2 separate regions of the Homo sapiens genome follow, and region 1 is linked to region 2. The links come from fine-mapping of genetic effects on gene expression. A gene starts in region 2. The other region holds a variant in brackets. All regions are shown on one strand. Distances are from middle to middle.

Region 1 (4,000 bases), 23 kb after region 2:
GAGGGAGGGTTGGGCAGAGACTGTCCTTACGAACAGACCTACTACAGGCAGGGAAAGAAAGTTAATTCCATCATTTGCTTGGTTTTAACTAAACCCTTTTGCACAAGGTCTTAGTTCAGTTGACCTCTCCCGAAGGCACAAGCTGCTCTTTCCAGGACACACAAATGTACAATCCTTCAAAAGAGGGGTTGGGGCCGACTCTCTGTGAGGAAAACAGTGGAATACAGTGGACTGGGCAGAGACCTTGATACTACACTGACTGTGTTCTCAAGTGGACTCTGTCATTTGAAACTAACTCTGTGCTCTTGGGCGCATGATTCACTTTCCCTGAGTCTCAGTTTCTTATCGTAAAATGAGAACAATAATAATTCCCTCCTTTCAGGGCTGTTGCAAGGTTTAGAGATGGCACATTTAAATATCTTGATAAGGTTGGGCGTGGTGGCTCACACCTGTAATCCCAACACTTTGGGAGGCCAAGGCAGGTGAATCACCTGAGGTCAGGAGTTCGAGACCAGCCTGGCCAACATGGTGAAACTCTATCTCCACTAAATATACAAAAATTAGCCAAACGTGGTGGCAGGCACCTGTAATTCCAGCTACTCGGGAGGCTGAGGCAGGGGAATCACTTGAACCCAGGAGGCAGAGGTGGCAGTGAGCTGAGATCACGCCACTGCACTCCAGCCTGGGCGACAGAGTGAGACTCCATCTTAAAATAATAATAATAATAAGATAAATATCTTAATGAGAAATGACTACCATTATTATTGTAACCATGTACATGGGACAAAAGACCCTGAGGAAAGTTCAAATTATGCTTCCAGAAGAGGGTATTAACTGTCTAGCAACAGCTGGGGACAGGGAGGAACTACGGAAATTTATCCCAGAGAAGAGAAAAAAAATGGAGATGGAGTTAACAGCTACTTTGAGGTATTCCTGCGTGTAAGAGGGACAGTGTCTTTTCTGAGGTTCCAGAAGCATGATTAAGGGGAATAGGTGAATATGTGATCAAAATAAGGAGACTTTCTAACAGTCGGAGCTGCCTGTGGCTGAGCTGGGGTGCCATAGAGGCGGTGAGAGCCTTGTCACTGGAGACGGTTAAGCAGTTATCTCTGGCCACACACAGGGAGCTTGCAAAGGGACTCAACGTTCTGATTCTATGATGGCTGTGCACAGATCCATGCTTATGGTGTGCCTAATACTGAGGTCCCAAACCATGTACCTTCACCACATCCCACCATTGCTTCCCAGTTGGGACCCCAGGGATGGCTGTTTCCTGGGAAGACACCACCTTCCTCCCTGTCTGACCTGCCAGGAAGCAGGGGATGCGCGCCGAGCGGTTGGTGAGGAGACAGGGGTCATCGTGCAGGTTGTCGAAGGGCAGCAGGGCCCGGCCGTTGTCTTGAAAGCGCTGGTTGATGGCCAGCAGCCCCAGGTAGTTGGTCCGGTTGCGGAGCCGCAGCGAGAGGGAGACCTCACTGCCATACACCATGCTGGCGTCCACAAAGGAGGTGAGCGCGTTGATCTGGTTGCGGACTCTGTTCTTGTTTTGGGGGCATGAGGGTGCCGAGCGGAAGAAAGGGATGCAGTCACGCTGGTTCTTGATGCGGGGGTCATTGGGTGGGATCTGAGATGGAAGAGGAGACAGTGACATGGGGCCCCCTCAATAGCAGACTCACTCCTCTCCGTCATCTTCCACCTCCTCAAAACCTTGCTTAAAACTCCCTTCCTCCAGGAAGCCCTCCTTGACTCACCCAGGCTCATGCTGCTCACCCCGTCAGTCTGAGTGTCCT[T/C]AACATTTTGTTTCATAGAGTCTCAAAAGGTTAGGAATGAATGAGGCTTTTGAAACAATCTCGATCCTCATTTTACAGCAAGGAAAACAGCCTCAGAGAGGGGAAGTGACAACCAGTTAGCAGGAAAGGTGGGATTAGAACTTAGTTCTCTTGACTCTTAGGCCTGAGCTTCTTTAATTCTGTTCAATTCGACAGACCTTTTCTAAGCCCCTTTCTTGCTTGCTGCTTTGGAGATTATGAAGGTTAAAAAAACACAGGAAAGGTTGCAGGAAGCTGGCAGTTCAGTGGAAAAAGACACACACACATAGAGTTAAGAAACTAAGTTGAAGTGGCATCTGCTGTGCTTGATAGAAAAGCCATATGTGGGCCAGGTGTGGTGGCTCACGCCTATAATCCTAGCACTTTGGGAGGCCGAGGCAGGTGGATTACATGAGGCCAGAAGTTTGAGATCAGCCTTGTCAACATGGTGAAACCCAATCTCTACTAAAAATACAAAAATTAGCCAGGCTTGTTGGCACATGCCTGTAATCCCAGCTACTCGGGAGGCTGAGGCATGAGAACTGCTTGAACCCAGGAGGCAGAGGTTGCAGTGAGCTGAGATTGCCCCTCTGTACTCCAGTCTGGACAACAGAGTGAGATTCTGTCTCAAAACAATAATAATAATAATAAAGAAGAAAGAAAGAAGGAAAGATAAAGAAAGAAAGGACGGAAGAAAGAAAAAGAAAGAAAAAGAAAGAAAGAAAGGAAGGAAGGAAATGAAGGAAGGAAGGGAAGGAAGGAAGGAAAGGAAAGAAAGAAGAAAGAAAGAAAGAGGAAGGAAGAAGGAAGGAAGGAGAGAGAGGAGAGGGGAGGGGAGGACATATGTTAAAAGTGTAATAGGAAGATCTGAGAAGGCTCCCCAGAGGAGGTGCCCCTAAGCCAGGGATTGAGGAATAGATAAGGTTGCAACAGGGAGAGGCCATCCAGAGGCCCTCACATGTCATCCCTCATGAATGTGGCCCCACCTATTAAGGGTGACTGTGTGTGTACATGTGTGTGTGAGAGGGAGCGTGTGTGTGCACGTGTGTGTGTGTGAGAGAGTGTGTGTGTGCACGTGTGTCAACCCTATGTTCCTAGCAGAGACTCTGCTCCCTGGATTCTATCTTTCCTCCCCTAGTGCCCCACACTGTCCTTGGCTTCTAGCCTGAAGGTTAGGACCCTACTTACAGCCCAAGCCCAAGAAGCTGGCAAGAGCCGCAGGACCCTTGGACTACTCTGGGAAGGAGAGAAGGGCAAGAGCTAAGAGGCCCTTAGGTTGCCAAAAGCAGGGGCCCAGAGGCTTCCCCTGTTGGATTCAGACCCATGGGTCAAGGCATGTGTCAAGGGCTTCCCACTCCATGAAGCCTGACCTGAGCCTCCTGGCAGATTGCCCTACCCCCACCTCTCAAACACACACGGCGCGGGGTCTCTGCTCAGCTGTGTTTCTTGTGTCTCTGTCTCATACCCTAGCTCCACAGGCAGCTCCTTAAGGATGGTGCTCCAGTCTTCCAGATCCCCACCCCCAGCACCTTGCCTTTGGGGGAGGCCACACAAGGGCATGGGAGATTGGCTGAGGGTAGGTACCTTGATGGGAAAGCAGGGGGGCAGCTGGGCGCAGGTCCTCTCACAGTCAACGCCTGCAGTGAAGGCCACTCTGGCCGGGGACTCCGGGGAGAAGTCCAGGTCATGGTCAATGAACTGGCCCCACTGCATGAACATGAGGGCTCGGCCACGGTCGGAGGTCAGTCTCTCATTGGGGAAGCGCACAATCTGGTTGGAGACAGCCCGGACCTGGTGGGGAAATAACATCAGCACGGGACATGGGCTCCCTGACCCCACAAGGTATTAGAGCCAACCCAGGACTCAGGGAGCAGCAGCTCCCCTGCTGGAATTGACAGCCTCTCCTCTTCTGCCCTCCATGCCCCTTTTGTCCCTGGAGGCGTAGCCACCTCCTGCTCTCATTCCTAGAAGGATGGTTTCTGGCTGGGCTCCTGAGGATTCCGGTGGTAAAGAGAAGGAGAGGGGCTAGGTTGACTGGCTCAGACCTCACCAGCTCTCCCAGAGGGGAAGGGAGATCAAATAGATAGATCAATTTGTACACTGATAGCTAACCAGATGATAGCACGGATTCACAGGTGCATGGGCTGGTTGCCAGGTGATGGATAATACACGTAGGGAGTACGGGGTCAGCA
Region 2 (4,521 bases):
ACACATGCACACGTATGTTTACTGGAGCACTAGTTACAATGTCAAAGACATGGTACCAACCCAAATGCCCATCAGTGATAGACTGGATAAAGAAAATGTGGTACATATACACCATGTAATACTATGCAGCCATAAAAAGGAATGAGATCATGTCCTTTGGAGGGACATGGATGAAGCTGGAAGCCATCATCCTCAGCAAACTAACACAGGAACAGAAAACCAAACACTGCATGTTGTCATTCATAAGTGGGAGTTGAACAATGAGAACACATGGACGCAGGGAGGGGAACACCACACACTGGGGCCTGTCGCAAAGTCTGGGGCAGGGGGAGGGAGAGCATTAGGACAAATAACTAATGCATTCAGGGCTTAAAATCTAGGTGATGGGTTGATAGGTGCAGCAAACCACCATGGCACATGTATACTTATGTAACAAACCTGCATGTTCTGTACATGTATTCCGGAATTTAAAGTAAAAAAAAAAAAAAGGACATTCTGACACATGCTACAATATGGATTAGGTATCTAAAACAGTCAAATTTCATAGAGAGAAAATGTAGAATGGTAGTTGCCAGGGGCTGGAAGAGGGGAATGAGGAGTTACTATTTAATGGGAACAGAGTTTCAATTTTCAAAAATAAGAAAGTAGTGGCGATGGATGGTGATGATGGTTGAAAAACAAGGTAAATGTACTTAAGACCAATAAGCTGAATATTTAAACATAAAAGGATCCTGATTCATAGAAATCAGTAAACAAAACATGAAAACTTAGTTTACCTATATAAAAATAATACTAATTATGGTTGCTTACACAAATAGCTTATATTTCCATAACGTGGTATAGAAACTATTTTGCATATAATTATGTCAGATTAACTTTGTTATAAGTTAGATTTGGTTATAAAATTAAACTAGAATCAGGCTCCACTTTATCAGCTGTTGTGCATGTGGCACAGATTGCCTACTCACAATTTTAAAAGGAAACATTGGAGAGACAATTTCTTAGGAGCTAGAAAGGTGCCTTTTGTTTTATGTTAAAATTATTTCCGGCCGGGCGCGGTGGCTCACGCCTGTAATCCCAGCACTTTGGGAGGCCGAGGCGGGCGGATCACGAGGTCAGGAGATCGAGACCATCCCGGCTAAAACGGTGAAACCCCGTCTCTACTAAAAATACAAAAAATTAGCCGGGCGTAGTGGCGGGCGCCTGTAGTCCCGGCTACTTGGGAGGCTGAGGCAGGAGAATGGCGTGAACCCGGGAGGCGGAGCTTGCAGTGAGCCGAGATCCCGCCACTGCACTCCAGCCTGGGCGACAGAGCGAGACTCCGTCTCAAAAAAAAAAAAAAAAAAATTATTATTTCCCAGGTTGGAAATGTGTGCGTTTATGGAATAAATTGGTAGGTGAGAGGCTGTGAGGCAAACTGGAAGGTGGTTAGGCTTCAAAAGACAGAAGAACTTGGGCTAGAATCCCAGTACTTTTACCACTTGCAAGCTAGCAAGTCCTTTAAACCCTGGCCTTCACGAACTTCATTTTTAAAGTGAATAAAAGTACCTTTTTGAGAGGCTTCTACAAGGATTTGGGACAATGCAAACAAAAGTGCTCAAGCTGCACTAGATCCTAAATAAATGGTGCTATTTATGGTGAGTCGGTGTTACACAACTAGTGGCTATGGCACCCAGAGCTTCCAATGCCAAATCATCAAACTGGCATGAGATTCCCGAGTTCAGGGGACAATTGCTTACTTTGTTGGAGGAGGACTAGATGTGAACAAGGCTGATAAATGTTGACATTCCCAAAGTGCCGGGACGCCAGACGTGAGGTTACAGCATGTCCTTCCTTTGCTAGTACAACGAAGCATGACTTGTGAATGTCACTTTTTTGGCTTTTCAGGAAGCCAGTGCAGTAACAAAGTGGCTTAATGATCCAAAACTAACATACACAAGGTAAGAATCAGTTCAATAATAACATCGTTTCCTTCCTTACTGTTGACTTCCTTGTTTTTTCTTTCTTTGCTCAGTGAATATCAACACAAAGACTAATAAATCTTCTGACACTTTTTTTGTCTTCCAAGAATATATTTTCTTGTCTGGCTAAGGGCCATCACCTTCCCTGACTCCTTTGGGAATAATGGGTGCATTTCTTACAGTCACATCACCCGATTTTCAGGCCAAAGTTTTCACGCGTTGGGTGGAAGGCAGTGTGGCATGGTGGAAAAGGTAGAGGGCGAAGACTCAGGCCACCTGGTCCCCGTCATCATTTCTGCATCTATCTGTCTATATGAAGTGGGCTGATGGCTGTGCCAGTTTCCTCATTTGCACAGCGCACGAGGTCCCGCTTTCGGTGAGCTTTTATCGCATACATGGTAAGCGGTGATCGGTAGGACCCCGGAGCCCTCTTGGGCGTTCGGCTTGGGCTGCACTTGCACTGTGTGGCCAACTGCGACCGTGGCGCCGTGACGGGAACGGCGGGTTGCGCGCGCAGCACCTCCGTCGCCTCCCGATCCAGCGTCTCCGTTGCCAGGAAAACAGAGCGGCGCGCTTTCCGGCGCAGTCGCGGCGCGTCGCAGCTGTCATGGCGGAGACCGTCTGGAGCACTGACACCGGGGAGGCAGTGTATCGCTCCCGGGACCCCGTGCGCAACTTGCGCCTCCGGTAGTCGCACCGCCCCAGCCCCGAGGCCCCATGCTTTTGTGTCCTTAGATCATTCCAACCTGAGCTCGGTGTTCTGAGGTCCCCACTTTCTGCTTACAATCCCGACCACTTCTCCGGGCTCCCCACTTCTTTCACTATCCGTACCCCCATCCACTCACAGCCTCTAAGAACCCCTTACAGACCTACCCAAGTCCATTCACGTCTTTGTTGCTCCCAGTTTCTCAAAGCCCTGTGCCCCCAGTACACCCTCTCCCCTTCATTCTTCCCCATAGGACGGCGCACCCACCCACCTCCTCTCCGTTGTCTGCACCCAGCACACCTTGGCAACCCTACCTCCTCTGTTTTGTTTCCCCCATCCTTGCTTTGTGTTCATCTCCTGGTTGCGTGTCTGGTAACGAATATTTTGGGCTTTTCTTGACAGAGTCCACCTGCAAAGAATCACATCAAGCAACTTTCTTCATTATCAGCCTGCTGCCGAGCTCGGGAAGGACCTCATAGACTTGGCCACTTTTAGGCCTCAGCCAACTGCCAGTGGGTGTTACGGTGGTGATGTGCCATCTAATACTAATTATGATACTAATCAGAATTGTGGCCAAATGTAGTGAGATAACAAATACTATACTTCTGATATGTTATAGAGTTGCCCGGCAACCTACATTCTATTTGTGGCTTTTTTTTTTTTTTTTTTTTTTTTTTTTTTTTTGAGACGGAGTCTTGCTCTTTCCCCCAGGCTGAAGTGCAGTGTCGCTATCTCCGCTCACTGCAAGCTCCGCCTCCCGGGTTCACGCGATTCTCCTGCCTCAGCCTCCCGAGTAGCTGGGACTACAGGCGCCCGCCACCACGCCCGGCTAATTTTTTGTATTTTCAGTAGAGGCGGGGTTTCACCGTGTTAGCCAGGATTGTCTCGATCTCCTGACCTCGTGATCCGCCCGCCTTGGCCTCCCAAAGTGCTGGGATTACAGGCGTGAGCCACCGCGCCCGTCCTATTTGTGGCATTTTTAAAAGAGAAAACGTGCCCCAAACCCTAAATACACATATAAACACTTTTAAAAACAATTTTTAAACTGGAGACTGCTTGCAAAATCTGCATATGATGTGCATGTATAGATCAACTGTGTTCTTGTGGTTTTCCTTATCTGGGAAACCAAAAGAATGAGGAGGAGAGGACAGAGTGGTTGTTGTCAGGTCACTAGTCTGTTTGCTTTTATTGTTTCTCTTTCTGTTCAGAGCTGTTCCTGGGCAAGAGTGTGGGCTCACAGGTTGTGAAACGTGTCTCTGAAAAAGGCATACCCAAGAGTGTATTAGATTAGATTTGTTTTCTTTGTTTTTGTTTTCGTTTTGTTTTGAGACAGAATCTCATTCTTCTGCTCAGGCTGGAGTGCAGTGGTATGATCATAGCTCACTGTAAACCTTGGTCTCCCAGGCTCAAGCCATCCTCCTGCCTCAGCCTCCCAACTAGCTGGGACTACAGACTCACACTCAGTTTATTTTTTTTTAAAGTTTTAGTAGAGAAAAGGTCTTGCTATGTTGTCCAGGCTGGTTTCAAATTCCTGGGCCCAAGTGATCCTCCCACCTTAGCCTCCCAAAATGTTGGGATTACAGGCGTGAGTCACTGCATTCAGCCAGATTTGGTTCTGTTAAAAAATCATTTATTTGCCTTCACTGTCCTCTCCTTACACTTGGTCTCCTAAATTTCAGTGTTTGTGATTCTACATATATGGCTTTAGAAATAGTAAAGATAAAAATGCCAGGGTTATTTTCTAGCAAATGCAGACAGTTGGGACTGAGGAAGGGCTGGCTATTCAGCTTATATCTAAATTTCAGTTTCTTATATCCAGTTAGATTAGATATTTCCTGGAGCGGGCTGAGCGCC

Which allele goes with the higher level. Positions count from the first base shown, and alleles are read on the strand shown. Sizes are in standard deviations (SD) of each study's normalised expression.
With allele C in place of T in region 1, the expression in aorta of the gene that starts at base 2,544 in region 2 is lower (small effect, 0.20 SD a copy in GTEx).

What was found. PIP is the estimated chance that this variant, and not a neighbour inherited with it, causes the effect.
Region 1: its variant is the best candidate, but not a certain one, in a credible set for the expression of MKS1 in aorta (GTEx, PIP 0.77).

The regions. Positions count from the first base shown.
Region 1 is chr17:58,194,563-58,198,562 of GRCh38, reverse strand. EPX (eosinophil peroxidase) reads right to left here. Exons shown (of 13, transcript NM_000502.6): 6 at 3,393-3,599; 7 at 1,306-1,624. Among named protein-coding and RNA genes, the nearest start is that of EPX, 3.8 kb to the right of the region's middle. The variant T/C (reference allele first, on the strand shown) is at 1,791.
Region 2 is chr17:58,217,278-58,221,798 of GRCh38, reverse strand. MKS1 (MKS transition zone complex subunit 1) reads left to right here and starts at 2,544. Exons shown (of 18, transcript NM_017777.4): 1 at 2,544-2,648; 2 at 3,070-3,179. The coding sequence starts at 2,569. It overlaps LOC105371841 (a long non-coding RNA gene), which reads right to left and starts at 2,485. Exons shown (of 2, transcript XR_934884.4): 1 at 1,740-2,485. RefSeq lists an enhancer at 2,437-2,716.